Homo sapiens: one gene and its partner. The protein of the gene in region 1 binds, or shares a complex with, the protein of each later gene. Each region holds a gene or a part of one and is shown on either strand. Other genes may lie near its edges. The genes, in order: SPG7 and VDAC1.

What was found.
Region 2: SPG7 (region 1) and VDAC1 share a complex: the UniProt entries of both Homo sapiens proteins name them as parts of the mitochondrial permeability transition pore complex.

What each region holds. Positions count from the first base shown.
Region 1 is NC_000016.10:89,503,308-89,511,402, reverse strand, and holds the start of SPG7 (mitochondrial inner membrane m-AAA protease component paraplegin isoform 1 precursor), read right to left. Parts: upstream 3,001-8,095; 5' UTR 2,986-3,000; coding exon 2,803-2,985; intron 914-2,802; coding exon 811-913; intron 1-810. UniProt on the Homo sapiens protein: Catalytic component of the m-AAA protease, a protease that plays a key role in proteostasis of inner mitochondrial membrane proteins, and which is essential for axonal and neuron development.
Region 2 is NC_000005.10:133,973,868-133,981,132, reverse strand, and holds part of VDAC1 (non-selective voltage-gated ion channel VDAC1), read left to right. Parts: coding exon of another isoform or gene 1-27; intron 28-134; exon of another isoform or gene 135-176; coding exon 177-404; intron 405-5,111; coding exon 5,112-5,262; intron 5,263-7,265. UniProt on the Homo sapiens protein: Non-selective voltage-gated ion channel that mediates the transport of anions and cations through the mitochondrion outer membrane and plasma membrane.

The DNA of each region.
Region 1 (8,095 bases):
TAAAAGTGAGAGGTGTCAATCCTTCAGGTTCTTTAACCTAAAGCCAAGAGAGACCAAAGAATGTCACAAGGTTTCATTAAATGATTTATTGAAGAGCAAATTATTTGCAGGGTATTTTTAGTGATTGTGTGGATATAAAACATCTGTAGCCACTTTGTAAATCCTTACTAAACATTCTTGCAGCTGACTAGATAACACGAAAAACCTTTTTCAAGCAGCCCAATTACTGGAATACAGCAGAATTTTTTTTAAAAAAGGACAACTTGGCCAGATGCGGTGGCTCATGCCTGTGATCTCAACACTTTGGGAGGCCAAGGCAGGCTGATCGCTTGAGTCCAGGAGTTTAAGACCAGCCTGGGAAACGTGGCAAAACCCCATCTCCACAAAAAATACCCCCCAAAAATTAGCTAGGCGCTTTGGTGTGTGCCTGGAGTCCTGGCTCTATGGAAGGCTGAGGTGGGAGGATCACTCCAGCCTAAGAGGTCAAGGCTCTGCAACTGGGGGATAAGGGAGTAAAGAGGCCCCTTTGGGCCTGGACAACAAAGTGAGACCTTGTCTCTACAAAAAACAATTAGCCGAGTGTGACGGTACACGCCTGTAGTCCTAGCTACTCCGGAAGCAAAGTGGGGAGGATCCCTTGAGCCCAGGAGTTCTAGGCTGTAGTGAGCTCTGATCACACCATTGTACTGCACTCCAGCCCGTGCAACAGGGCGAGATCCCGTCTCTAAAATAAAAAAAGATCAGCCTCCCAAGTAGCTGAGGCGGTAAGTGTGCAGTCATGCTCAGCTGCTTCTTTAAACAGATACATACCTAAAAGTTGCCAGAGTCTGACTGGATTCTGAACTAAATGTTGTTTCAACAACAATCCGTTGATCCCTTCAAAGGTAGGGGTTAGCAGTCTCAATTGTAAGCTCTGAAAAAAAAAAAAAAACAATACTGGAGGTCACACCAACATTAGAGAGTACCAAAGCAATGCAGACTAAAAATCGTTTTTAAAAGTTCAAATATATAATTATTTGTAATATCTACATTGCCCTGAAATATAAAGTAATAGTCTGAGCAATAGGTCAAAGCTTTAGGTAACATCAAAATGTCAAAAGCAAGTAAACAGGTTAAAACACAGTAATTGGCCAGGCGTGGTGGCTCACGGCTGTAATCCCAACACTTTGGGAGGCTGAGGCGGGTGGATCACATGAAGTCAGGAGTTTGAGACCAGCCTGGCCAACATGGTGAAACCTCATCTCTACTAAAAATACAAAAATTAGCCGGGCGTGGTGGTGCACACCTGTAATCTCAGCTACTCAGGAAGCTGAGGCAGGAGAATCGCTTGAACCCGGGAGGCAGAGGTTGCAGTAAGCCGAGATAGCACCACTGCACTCCAGGCTGGGCAACAAAGGGAAACTCCATCTCAAAAAACAAACAAATAAACAAACAAAAAATCACGATAGTGGCCAGGCACGGTGGCTCATGTCTGTAATCCCAGCACTTTGGGAGGCTGAGGTGGGAGGATTGCTTGGGCCCAGGAGGCAGAGGCTTCAGGGAGCCATGATCAGGCCACTGCACTCCAGCCTGGGCGACACAGCGAGATTGTCACAAAAAAAAAAAAAAAAAAAAAAGAAGAAAACAAAACACAGAAGTACATTGGCTGCTATCCCATGGCCTGAAGCTTCTGCAGGAGAAAGGGAGCAGCCCAGCTCTCCAAAGGCCACAGTGGCTGCCCAGACACGGGGCTCCTGCTGTCACCAGAGAGTGGCTCCTTGTAGAACATTTCCAGGTACCAAACCAGTTAACAAGTATATACTTTCAGAGTTCTCCTTTCAAGATAAACATTTTCCCATTTAAATATGTTTTATGGCCGGGCGCGGTGGCTCACGCCCTGTAATCCCAGCACTTTGGGAGGCCGAGGCAGGCGGATCACAAGGTCAAGAGATGGAGACCATCCTGGCCAACATGGTGAAACCCCGTCTCTACTAAAAATACAAAAATTAGCTGGGTGTGGTGGCGCGCACCCGTAATCCCAGCTACTCAGGAGGCTGAGGCAGGAGAATCGCTTGAACCCGGGAGGCGGAGGTTGCAGTGAGCCAAGACCATTGCACTCCAGCCTGGGCGACAGAGCGAGATCTCTGTCTCAAAAATAACCGAAAAAACAACAACCTAAAAGGTGTGGGCTAAGCTCCTAGGCGAGGGCTAGGAGAAAAAAACATCAGCCCAAAAGCTGAAGGACACAAGGTCTGGTTTTCGGGAGGAGATGCTATCCTATCCTTAGCAGAACCTGAAACAAGGCCGCACTACAGGGGGTGCTCAATGACTGTATCAATAACGTGCCGAGCTACATGACAACAGCAAAATGCAGCTACAGGGTATTTTGCGGACACAGAAACGTTCTGGGCCCCCTACTCGGCAATAACCACCCTAACTGGAAGGCGCTGGAATTCCTGGTGACGGAATCGATCCACAGGCGTGGACTGTAAATTAGTGCTACGCCGGAAACCGTTACTGGATTCCACTTTAAAAGGCGAGGAAGACGGGCGGAGAACATCCACACACAACAGACGGGTTGGGAAAGTCCACGCCGAGGACTGCGCGGATCCCAGCCCTGCCTCTTCCCGGCCCGCCCAGCGCCCACGATCCAGGGCCCCAACAGTCGCTCCGCGCCGAGGTCCACAGCTGGGGGATCCGCGGGCCCACAGGCGCAGGCTCCCCCGCCGCAGGGGCCAGGCGGCCTCCGACCCGCCCCGCCGGGCTGGGCCTTACAGAGCAGAGCCGGGCGGGAGGTGGGGCCCGGACTCCGCGGGGATTTACCTGCAGAGCTCGGCCTCCAGCCTCGGCGAGGTCCCCCGGAGGCCTGCTGGCCATGTACGGCCGCCCCCTCCCGGGCCTGGCGGGGAACCCTGGACTCCAGGCCGGGCCTGGGCCCCACAGCGGCCGAGGACCCGGGCCTGGACCCCGGCGGAGGGCACGGAGCAGCAGCAGCAGCACGGCCATGTTGGCCTGAAAGCCGCGCCTGCGTGATCCGCGGGGCGCTACACGGCGCCTGCGCGGCGGGGTGGGCGGGGTCTGACGTGGCGCCTGCGCGGTCCCCACAGCTGCGCCCCGCCGCGCCCGGGTGCCGCTTGCCGCACCCCCGAGCCTGAGCCCGTCTACCTCGTGGCTGCCTGAGGCCCGGGTATGGGGGCGCGCGTCTGCGAGGAGGTCGCGGGTGCCCTGGTTTTTTTGAAGCCGGCCTTGTATTCCCAGGGCCTGGCGGGTGAATAACCGGCCGGGTCGTGGCTGCGTGGTCGTGCTCCGCCCGCGCCGAGGGGCCTCACGCCCGGGCAGCCTGCGTCACCCGCAGGGTTCGGTCACAGGCGAGGGCGGATGGTGCGGGCCGGAATCCCGCCTGCGAGTAGAGGCCCGCGCTCAGGAGGGCGGCGCCGGAGGCCTCGGGTCGGGAGGGCCCCTTCGGGTGTGAGGAGCGCAGGAAGGGGGCGGTTTTCCTGCGTCTTGAGCCGCCCGAGGACGAGGACTGAAGTTGCAGCCGCCGCAGGGAGGGCAGCCCCGGAGGAGGAGGGTCGTGAGGGAGGGAGCGCGCAGTGCGGCGCGGCCTGGCAGGCGTCTGCAGAGCTCGTCCCGCACACCTCTGACTTCGGAGCGCTCCGTCCTGTGCCTTCGGACTGGCTCACCTCGGAGGCGCTTCGAGCCTCGGTCCTGCCCCGGCCGCTGCGCGAGCCCATCGTAGGAAGCGGGGAGGCGCCGTCTGGAAGCTTAGGAAGAGGCTCTGTTCTCTTCAGGGTCCGCCCTCCGGGCCCGGGCAGGGTCCCTCGTGGGCTCCCAGGCGCGCGGGGTCCTCCGCCACCCCGACCCCTTCCTCCGTCCGCCTTAGGTCTAGAGCTGACGCCAAGAGCTGGAAAGCTTGTTGAGTAGGAAAAGCAAAGACTAGATGGTCTGTCACAGAGGTAGGATGAGGGTGACCTATTTATTTTTATGCTTTTCTGTACTCCGCAAATTCGTAACAGTGAATGCCAGTGACGACAGCCAACATCACCGAGTGCCTAGCTCCGTGTCGAACACCCATGTAATATTCACAACCCTGTGCAGCGAATACAATACCTCTATTTTACATGTAAAGAAAGATTCAGAAGTATTAAAAGTAACCTGCCTAGGATTACAGCTCTGAAGTTAGGGCAGAATTTCAAGGCCGGTCTGGTTTGTTTCTGGACCTGCACTCACTCCACCACTACAGACGAGGTTGCAAAGCCAGTGGGCTGCGTGTAATCCTCCCTCTTCCTCAGCCCCGAGACGCTCAGGAAAGTGTTTTCAGTTATCGTGGTTATCCGCCCTCAGCCCTCCAGTGGGCCGGGTGCCTCGGCAGAGGTGCTCGGGGCTGGGGAGGTGTTCTGTTGGTTTGTGGAGAGGACCTTCCCCTACACCCAGGGCTGACACTGATTTTCACAACTGAACCGCTTTTCCTTTTGCTTCTTATTGTACAGTCAGCCTTCGCAGTGAATCCAACCTTGCCGTTTCCTCCTCCACTATTTTTTCTTTCCCTGATTGAAAGACACCAGGTGGGCCGGGCGCGGTGCCCTCCCCCTCCCTCTCCCTGCCCTTCATCCCAGCACTTTGGGAGGCCAAGGCGGGCGGACCACGAGGTCAGGAGATCGAGACCATCCTGGCTAACACGGCGAAACCCCGTCTCTACTAAAAATACGAAAAATTAGCCGGGCGCTGTGGCGGGCGCCTGTAGTCCCAGCTACTCGGGAGGCTGAGGCAGGAGAATGGCGTGAACCCGGGAGGCGGAGCTTGCAGTGAGCCGAGATCCCGCCACTGCACTCCAGCCTGGGCGACAGAGCGAGACTCCATCTCAAAAAAAAAAAAAAAGGTCACAAATCCTCTGAACGCACAGGCATAAAGGGTTGTGGGGCTCGGTCACTTCCTAGAACACAAAAAACCCTTTCGGAAGTTTGGTTGGGTTGGTCACGGGACAAGGCTGGAGAGAGGGTGAGGGCACACATTTGGATGTGTTTGGGAGGAGTTTAAGTGTAGTCCTATTAATATTGTTTGAGATAAGTTAAAATTGTTTCCTGGCAATTCATCAGAAGCAGTGTGGGGTGTTGGCAAGAGGCCTCCTCTGGGGAAAGAACACTGGGTTCTGTCTCCTCTGGCCTATGACCTTAAGCAAGTTATTAGCTTCCTCAAGCCTCAATCTTCTCAGCGGTAAAATGGGGATGATAATTATCTGCAAAGCAAGGCTAATATCAGCCTTGGGTTTCCCACAGGGTGGTTATGAAGATAAAATGCAATAAATGTGTGTGAGGGCAACTGACGAGCCAGGAAGCCTTGGCATCCAGAGTTATTACTGGGACGTCATGGGAAATGAGGATATGGGAACAGAGTATTTATGCATTTATTCAAACTCATCTCTAACAACCGTGCTTTGAAGGCTGGCTGCATCCCAGGCCCTACAGGTGAACCGTGACTCTCAGCTCTCAGCTTCAGCCCCTGCTGTAGTGGCGGCAGCAGCAGAGGCTCACGTAGCCTCAAGCAGTAGGGGTTTTGTTTAAGGATTCGGGTGCCCCATGGTTTGGGGGTTTTGTTTTTATTTTGCTGCATGATTTGGATTCAAGAAGAAGGATCTGTAGGACAGTGGGCTCCCGGGTCTGCCTTTGCCCTCATAGCCTGCAGCAGAGCAGGACGTTCGCTTTCCCTTCTCCGCCTGTGTGTTCTTCCTGCACTGCCTAACTGCTGCTTGCTCATTTGTGCTTCCGTGTCACCCCTCCTCAGCCCTCTGAACTCTGCACGTCAGGACTTGGCACACTTCCTAACTGCTGCTTACTCATTTGTACTTCCGCGTCACCCCTCCTCAGCCCTCTGAACTCTGCGCTTGGACTTGGTGTGACTTCCCTTCCCCGCCTATTCTCTAGAGGCAGTCTCTTGGTGACTCCTGGTTTGGGTCAGGGCACGCCTTAGGTCTCTGGATGGCTACCAACCCCAGGTTCCCTCAGCTCTAGCCCCATAAGAGAGGAGGCCTCAGGAGCGCCTAGGGCAGCCCTTTCAGCCTGGGCTGTGGGAAGGGAAGGTGGACAGAGAGGAGACCCCATGCCTTTGTTCCCTGTTGATGCAGAAGCATTCTAGGCTCTGTCCCTTATTCCTGCTGTGGGCTGAAGCTTCAGGCAAGGTGCTCTACAAACTTCAGTTGCCTCATCTATCAAACAGTAACGTTTAACATTCCAGAGACAGAAGTTGATCTTTGGGACTTTTTTTGATTTTAAGATCTAGGCTGGCTGGGGCGGTGGCTCATGCCTGTAATCCCAGCACTTTGAGAGGCCGAGACCGGTGGATCACGAGATCATCAGGAGATGAGACCATCCTGGCTAACATGGTAAAACCCAGTCTCTACTAAAAATAGAAAAAATTAGCCGGGCACGGTGGCAGGTGCCTGTAATCCCAGCTACTTGGGAGGCTGAGGCAGGAGAATCGATTGAATCTGGGAGGCAGAGACTCCATCTGAAAAAAAAAAAAAAAGATCTAGGCTTCTGGCTGGGTGCTATGTCCCACGCCTGTAATCCCAGCACTTTGGGAGGGCAAGGCAGGTGGATCACTTGAGGTCAGGAGTTCAAGACCAGCCTAGCCAACACGGCGAAACTCTCTTTCTACTAAAAATACAAAAAAATTAGCCAGGCACGGTGGCAACATGCCTGTAGTTCCAGCTACTCGAGAGGCTGAGGCATGAGAATCGCTTGAACCTGGGAGGTGGAGGCTGCAGTGAGTTAAGATCTTGCCACTGCACTCCAGCCTCAGTGATGAGTGAGACCCTGTCTTTTTTTTTATGAGACAAGGTCTCACTCTGTTGCCCAGGCTGAAGTACAGTGGTGCGATCTCAGCTCACTGCAGCCTCTGCCTCCCAGCTTCAAGCGATTCTCCTGCCTTAGCCTCTCGAGTAGCTGGGATGACAGGCATGAGCCATCGCGCCAGGCCAAGACTGTCTCAAAAAAAAAAAAAAAAAAATCTAGGCTTCCTTATTAATATCTGAACAAATAATTACATATTTGCTTCTTTCCAAATTTGGCAGCAACTAAACTTAAAAATTTTTTTAAGTACATTTGCTTTTGCAGTTAGCCTGGCCTCCAGAGCTCTTGGACTGCAGCACCCATAATGATGGCCAAAGCCGCCCCCACGGCGACTCCTCCTGCTGAAGCAAAGTCAGGCAGAACAATAAGGTATGTGTTGAATATGAGGATGTCTTACATAAAACATGTTACCTTGTGGAATGCTTGAAAATAAACGAGTTCATCTCTGTAAATTTTAGTACATTTTCTTCCTGAAGCTCTTTCTTAGGAAACAGTTTCTTCTTATATCACTTGTTAACTGGGCTTTACTCATCCATGTAGAACCAGATTTTATTCTTCTTTAAAAGATGGGGCTGGGCGTGGTGGCTCACGCCTGTAATCCCAGCACTTTCGGAGGCCGAGGTGGTTGGATCTGGATTACCTGAGGTCAGGAGTTGGAGACCGGCCTGGCCAACATGGTGAAACCTCATCTCTACTAAAAATACGAAAATTAGCTGGGTGTGGTGGCAGGCGCCTGTAATCCCAGCTACTCAGGAGGGAGACTGAGGCAGGAGAATCGCTTGAACCCGGGAGGTGGCGGTTGTGGTGAGCCGAGGTCGCGCCACTGCACTCCAGCCTGGGCAACAGAGTGAGACTCCGTCTCAAAAAAAAAAAAAAAAAAAAAAAAAAAAATGCTGGGCACCGTGGCTCACGCCTGTAATCCCAGCACTCTGGGAGGCCGAGGGTGGGTGGATCATCTGAGGTCAGGAGTTGGGAGACTATCCTGGCCAACATGGTGAAACCTCCTCTCTACTAAAAATACGAAAATTAGCTGGGTGTGGTGGCAGGCGCCTGTAACCCCAGCTACTTGGGAGGCTGAGGCAGGAGAATCGCTTGAACCCAGGAGGTGTTGGTTGAAGTGGGCCGAGATCGCATCGCGTCACTGCACTCCAGCCTGCGCGACAGAGTGAGACTCCACCTCAAAAAAAAAAAAAAGGGTGGGCGGATCACCTGAGGTCTGGAGATTGAGACCAGCCTGACCAACATGGAGAAACCCCGTCTCTATAAAA
Region 2 (7,265 bases), on another chromosome or scaffold:
AAGAGAGGTTGTGTCCTGCTCATTGTGGTACAGCAGTGGCTTAAGGGAGAACTGGAGCCCTGACTTCACCCCCACCCCACTCCCTTTATTTGACCTGGGATTAAAAAAAAAAAAAAGACAACTTGCATTTCAAGGTGAGTTAGCTTCTGATCTTAATATAACTTATTTTCCTTCAGGAAAAAAAATGCTAAAATCAAGACAGGGTACAAGCGGGAGCACATTAACCTGGGCTGCGACATGGATTTCGACATTGCTGGGCCTTCCATCCGGGGTGCTCTGGTGCTAGGTTACGAGGGCTGGCTGGCCGGCTACCAGATGAATTTTGAGACTGCAAAATCCCGAGTGACCCAGAGCAACTTTGCAGTTGGCTACAAGACTGATGAATTCCAGCTTCACACTAATGTGTAAGTGTACATGGGGGCAGCAGGGTGGGAGGGGTGGGGTTGGAGCATGTGTGGTAAGGGGATTGCTTTTCACTGTTTTTTTTTTTTTTTTTTTAAGAAAGCCCAGTTTTTAACCACTGTAAAGTGAGTTTGTTGGCATTAGATGAGCCACATGGCCTGCTGCTATCTTTTGTTTCCCACCTACCCATTTCCTGGAGTGTCTTAGATCCTTTCCACTCTGTGAACAGTATATATTGCCACAGGTACACAAAGTGGCTGATTAATTACAGCAGGGACATGGTGTCAGTCCAGAGCGTGTCCATTCCCTGCAGTTTTTGTTTTAGTTAACAAAACAGCTCTCTTTCTCTGTCTAATGCCTGAGGATTAGCCTGCTGGGCTTGATGACATGTAGACATGGTAGACAAATTTAGGAGCTGATTATCTCAGTTACAAACTATCTTCTCTGTACAGTGAAGCATGTAAAAGTAACTATTGGACAGTATGGTGAAGGGAAACAGTGATTATAGGTTAGGAGAGAGCCCCTTGAGAATTGAAGTAGATTGATGATTTAAGTTAAGGGAAACACATTTCATTCATGAATCTTGTTTTATCCATAAACCTTGTTTTATTTAGTTTCATGAGGAATTAACCTGTGACAGGCACAAGCTGGGTGCAGAGTTACCATGTTTATTTCTTTCCACTAGAGGTCACTAAAGAAGTAACTTCTTAAACTTAAGGCAAATCAGTGATATTAATGTGTAAACTAATATTTCCATTAATAAATTTTTTGAGGAATTTTTATCATTAATTTGGAATCTGTTACAGCTAAAAAGTCACAGGAAAACTATAGAGATGGACAATCTAGTGGTTGGCAGGGGGCGGGGAGGGTATGACTACAAAGCAGTGACTGAGGGAGTTTCGGGGAGGGAACTGTTCTATATTCTGACTGTCGTCATGGTTACATTAATCTGTGTACGTGTGTTAAAATTCGTAAAAATGTATACCAAGAAAATATCCATTTTGGCCGGGCGTCGTGGCTCACGCCTGTAATCCCAGCACTTTGGGAGGCCGAGGCGGGTGGATCACGAGGTCAGAAGTTCAAGACCAGCCTGGTCAAGAAGGTGAAACCCCATCTCTACTAAAAATACAAAAATTAGCTGGGCGTGGTGGCGGGTGCCTGTAATCCCAGCTACTTGGGAGGCTGAAGCAGGAGAATCGCTTGAACCTGGGAGGTGGAGTTTGCAATGAGCCGAGATCACGCCACTGCGCTCTAGCCTGAGCAACAGAGCAAGACTCCGTCTCAAAAAAAAAAAAAAAAAAAAAAAGCAAAGAAAATATCAATTTTATTATATGTTTAATTAAGAAGAGGTGAAACATACTAAAAAGCTATAGGAAACATACCACATGCATAGAAATGTTTTTGAACGTAGAATTCTGATTGGCATGGGAAGTGTTTTCCTTGGTTTGAAATTGGGCATTGGCACCAATTCTTCAGTACCAATTCTAGGAGGAACAATGGCTGTTAGCCATTTCCCCCACATATCTGAGCTTCAGCATTTTAAATAAGCAACAAGTGGGTATGGTTTATTTTTGGAACCAGCGTGAAGGCAGCTGACACAACTCATCTGGGTTGCCCTGGTGCTTGCAGGGGCCCAAATGCATAACAGAAATTCTTTGTGCTTCATATAGATGAATTTGAACAGTTCCACCTGTGTATTTATTTATTTATTATTATTATTTTTTGGTGACAGGGTCTCACTCTCTCACCCAGGCTGGAGTTCAGTGGCACGATCTCTGCAGCCTCCACCTCCCGGGATTAAGTGATACTCCCACCTCAGCCTTGCAAGTAGCTGGGACTACAGGTGCATGCCACCACACCTGGCTAATTTTTGTATTTTTTGTGGAGGCAGGATTTCGCCATGTTGCCCAGGTTGTTCTTGAACTTGTGAGCTCAAGCGATCTGCCCGCCTTGGCCTCCCAAAGTGCTGGGATTACAGGTGTGAGCCACTGCATCTGCCTTCTGTTTATGGTTTTGAAAGCTCTGTACAGGAAGGCAGTATTGTGTTCCTGGTTTTAGGATATTCTGAAAAGTCTGGCCTTTTTTAAAAACATGTAAGCCCAAGAAACTTCCCCATTTGAATATATTACTAAAGTCATTCAAAAATCTTATTTTTGACAGGCTGCTGTTTTATTGTAGCATACTTGGGCTGTCTACAGAAGACAGGATTCTCTGTGAATCAGGCAGTGCCTGGGTCTCCCTGTACTTTCTAGAAGCATAATGTCTGTCTCGCTGAATTTCATGGGGAAACGAAAATTTACAATGTGTGGCTCATACGTGTAATCCTAGCTACTTGGGAGGCTGAGGCGGGAGGATCACTTGAGGCCAGGAGTTTGGGACCAGCCTGGGGAACATAGAAATACTCTGTCTCTAAGAAATTTTTTAAAAATTAGCTGGGCATGGTGGCAACATGCCTGTGATCACTTGAGCCCAGGAGTTTGAGGTTACAGTGAGCTATGATTTTGCCACTGCTCTCCAGCCTGGGAAACAGAGCAAGATCCCATCTTGGGGAAAAAAAAAAAAGAAAATTTAGAATGTATTCTCTGATTTAGGGAGAGTGTCTTGTGAAGACTAGAGTTTTTGTTCTTAGGTCCTGAAGCCCTTTGCTGGATTCCAAAGTACGTGGGCTCTGACTCACAGTTAACCAATGCCATTTCCACTGGAAATGCCCACAATGATGAGGCAGAACTCAGACACTGATTTTATGTTAAAGATGTTTGAGAGGGTCTAGGCAGGCTTGAAGACCATCTGATGCAAGGAGGATGGTCATTCCTTTTTAAAAAATTGCAGCATTAAAATTTTTCTTAATTTTTTTAATCAAAGGAGTCTGAACCCATGGTTGTAAAATCAAACAGTACAGATGGGCCTATGAAAAGCAGTGATTCCAGCCTGCCTCAGCCTGCTCATCCCAGCTCCGCAGTGGCAGCCACTTTAACTGTTTTTGTTTTCTGTGGTTCCCTCCATGGAGAAGGTTGCTTCTGACCAGGCACCAGTATGCACTGTGTGTATAAACAACAATCTGAAAGCAGTAATGAGAGACAGTCTATGATCTGTGCCGACCCCAGCCCGACAGAGGACAAAGTGTAGACTCTGAGCTCTTCGTATGCCTTTTTAGGGGTGGCAGTGACTGCAGAGTTTGTATAGGCTGTTCAGCTGGGTGGGGCAGACTTTCAAATTCTGAGAGCTTAAGCAGGGCCCCAAAAGAGGAAGAGGAGAATTTGAATGACTGAAGAAGGGAAAGGGATATTCCCAGCAACTGGAGTCATTCAGTGTGTTTGTAAGAGAGGAGGGAGCTTGGCCAGCTGGGGTTTCATTCTGAATGTTTTTGAAAGAGGGAGACATTTTATGATGTAGCAAAAAGCTCCCTTTCAAATCCTGCCAGGCTTAGATGTTGCAGCATGGGTGAGGAGTATGCACAGGTGGACGAGATGAATTGTGGATTAAGCTCTTTTGAAGTGCTGCTCCTCCAAGAGGCTGGGTCAGTGCCAACTGTATCTCCCCAGCAGTGGCTGCAGCAGGTTGTGCCAAGGGCTCTAACTTGCCTTCTGAGGCATATGTGCAGCCCCACCTTTCTTGCCATTTCTGGCTGTGTTCTCTTCTCATTTTCTTCTCTTTCCATAACATTTTTTATTTTTACTTTTATTTTTTGAGCCAGAGTCTCACTCTGTCACCCAGACTGGAGTGCAGTGGTGAGATCTCAGCTCACTGCAACCTCTGCCTCCTGGGTTCAGACGATTCTCCTGCCTCACCCCCCCAGGTTGCTGGGATTACAGGCACCTGCCACCATGCCCAGCTAATTTTTATGTTTTTAGTAGAGACAGGGTTTCATCATGTTAGCCAGGCTGGTCTCAAACTCCTGACCTCAAATGATCTGCCCGCCTTGGCCTCCCAAAGTGCTGGGATTATAGGCATGAACCACTGCACCCGGACTTCCATGCCATTTTTCTGGTAGAATCGTTTATAAAAGTAATAACATCAGTAGCAGTAAAAATAAATCACTCAGAATCTCAGTGCTCTACTTGCTGCTTCTTTTTTTTTTTTTTCCTTATAGAGACAGGATCTCGCTCTGTTGCCCAAGCTATATCCTGGGCTCAAGCAGTCCTGCTGCCTCGGCCTCCCAAAATGCTAGGATTACAGGCGTGAGTCACCACGTACCCCCTCTCCCCTGGCTTTTTCTTTTTTTGTTTGAGACAATGTCTTGCTCTGTTGCCCAGGCTGGAGTGCAGTGGCGCGATCTCGGCTTACTGCAACCTCTGCCTCCCAGGTTCAAGCGATTCTCCTGCCTCAGCCTCTTGAGTAGCTGGGATTACAGGCGTATGGCACCAGCCCGGTCAATTTTTGTATTTTTAGTAGAAACAGGGTTTCACCATGTTGGCCAGGCTGGTCTCAAACCCCTGACCTCAAGTGATCTGCCCATCTCGGCCTCCCAAAGTGCTGGGATTACAGGTGTGAGCCACTGTGCCTGGCTAGGTGCCTGTTCCATACTTATCAGACTTCCTGTAATTTAGTACCTGTTTTGTGAAATTTGGTGAACTTCTGACTTCCCTTAATACCAGTATTGGTTCAGTCCATTTCTGTCATCCCTGTCTTCTGGGAGACTTGGGTGGATCTGTCTGGGCTGCAGCTCACCTCCCTGGGAAGCTCAGCATCTGTCCTGTGCTTGTTTGCAGGAATGACGGGACAGAGTTTGGCGGCTCCATTTACCAGAAAGTGAACAAGAAGTTGGAGACCGCTGTCAATCTTGCCTGGACAGCAGGAAACAGTAACACGCGCTTCGGAATAGCAGCCAAGTATCAGATTGACCCTGACGCCTGCTTCTCGGTGGGTATCTGTGGAATCACGCATCTCACAGGCAGGCCCATCTGCTCTTTATGTTGGAATCCTTCAGGTTTGCTGGAGTGCTGTGCTTCAGCTTACTCAAAGTGAGAGATGCTGCTGGGCGCCGTGACTCACGCCTGTAATCCCTGCACTTTGGGAGGCCAAGGCAGGCAGATCACTTGAGGTCAGGAGTCTGACACCAGCCTCGCCAACACGGTGAAACCCTGTCTACTAAAAGTACAAAAATTAGCCGGGCATGGTGGCGTGTGCCTGTAATCCCAGCTACTCGAGAGGCTGAGGCAGGAGAATTGCTTGAACCGGGGAGGCGGAGGTTGCAGTGAGCTGAGATCGTGTCACTGCACTCCAGCCTGGGTGACAGAGTGAGATTCTATCTCAAAAAAAAAAAAAAGACTCCGTCTCAAAAAAACAAAAACAAAGTGAGAGATGTTCTCACTTTGAAAAGAGTGCCAAATGAGTACAGTGATCATACTACTAGTACTTCTTATGGGTACCAGGCACTGTGCAGAGCCTTTTGTGTAGATTACTGTGTTTAATCCCATTTGAAATAGGTGCTTTGGTTTTTTAATCATCTCTGGGTTTTTTTTATTTTTTGTTTTTTTGAGACAAGGCCCAGGTTGGATGCAGTGGTGTAATTGCAGCTCACTGCAGCCTCATCCTCCTGTGCTCAAGTAATCCTGCCACCTCAGCCTCCCAAGTAGCTGGGACTATAGGCACACCAGCATGCCTGGCTAATTAAAAAAAAATTTTTAGTAGAGACAATGTCTCACTCTGTTGCCTGGGCTGGTCTCAAACTCCTGGGCTCAAGCTGTCCTCCCACCTCAACCTCCCAAATGTTGGGATTACAAGGCATGAGCCACCATGCCTGGCCAATCATCTCTGTTTGTTTGTTTTTTTTTTTGAGACGGAGTCTCCCTTTGTTGCCCAGGCTGGAGTGCAATGGCACGATCTCAGCTCACTGCGCAACCTCCGTCCCCCAGGTTCAAGTGATTCTACTGCCTCACCCTCCCATGTAGCTGGGAACACAGGCACCCACCACCACACCTGGATAATTTTTGTGTTTTTAGTATAGACGGGGTTTCACCATGTTGGTCAGGCTGGTCTCGAACTCCTGACCTCAGGTGATCTGCCTGCCTCGGCCTCCCAAAATGCTGGAATTACAGGCATGAGCCATGGCCCCTGGCCAATCATCTCTGTTTTTACAAATGAGGAACTAGAAACTTAGGTGAGTAACTTGCTCAAAGGTACACAGCAGGAAAGTGCTGGGAGCTGGATTTGAACCAGACTGGCTTACTGTTAAGCCTCTTCCATTAATACCAGTTCCTGTTCTATCATGCGGACTGTTAAAAGGGGCACTCTGAAATCTAGGGTTCTAATTGATAATTCCCCCCGCCCCGCCTCACTTTTCATTCTCCTTTTCAGCTCCTGCATTGCATATTAAGAAATCAATAGTCAGTTGGCATCTTGCAGAGTCTCTGGCATTGCTCACAGGCCCTCGAACTACTACACAGTTTTTGCAGTAAATCCTATTGGGCTCATTTCTGTTGTCACAGGGCACTGGCGGCTGTATCTCTTTGGGGTGAAATGAGGGAATCTCATGTTGCAGAATGGTGTCTGTACTGGTTTGTGTAATTTATGGACAGCCCTTTTTAAGTCTCCTAAACTAGAACCGAATTTGGCTCCCTTAACAGCAAGCACTTAAAAACAAGAGAAAAGGAGCCTCATTATTTATATGAGCAAAAGGACACTGGCCCCTAAGAGGCCTTCCTTCTCTCTGCTTTGTTCTTATGAGGGGTGTCAGATCTCAGCACACCCTTTGAACAGAAAGGTATGCACCTAAAATTGATGTATTTTGTATTGAATTTAATGAATCTCATGAACAAGGTGGTCATGAAAAATTTTGATTCTAAAGTCCAAGGTTGGTTGACTAAAAAGCTCTAATTTTGGAGATGGAAGTGCAAAGTATTATACTTAATGTTTTCTCTGTT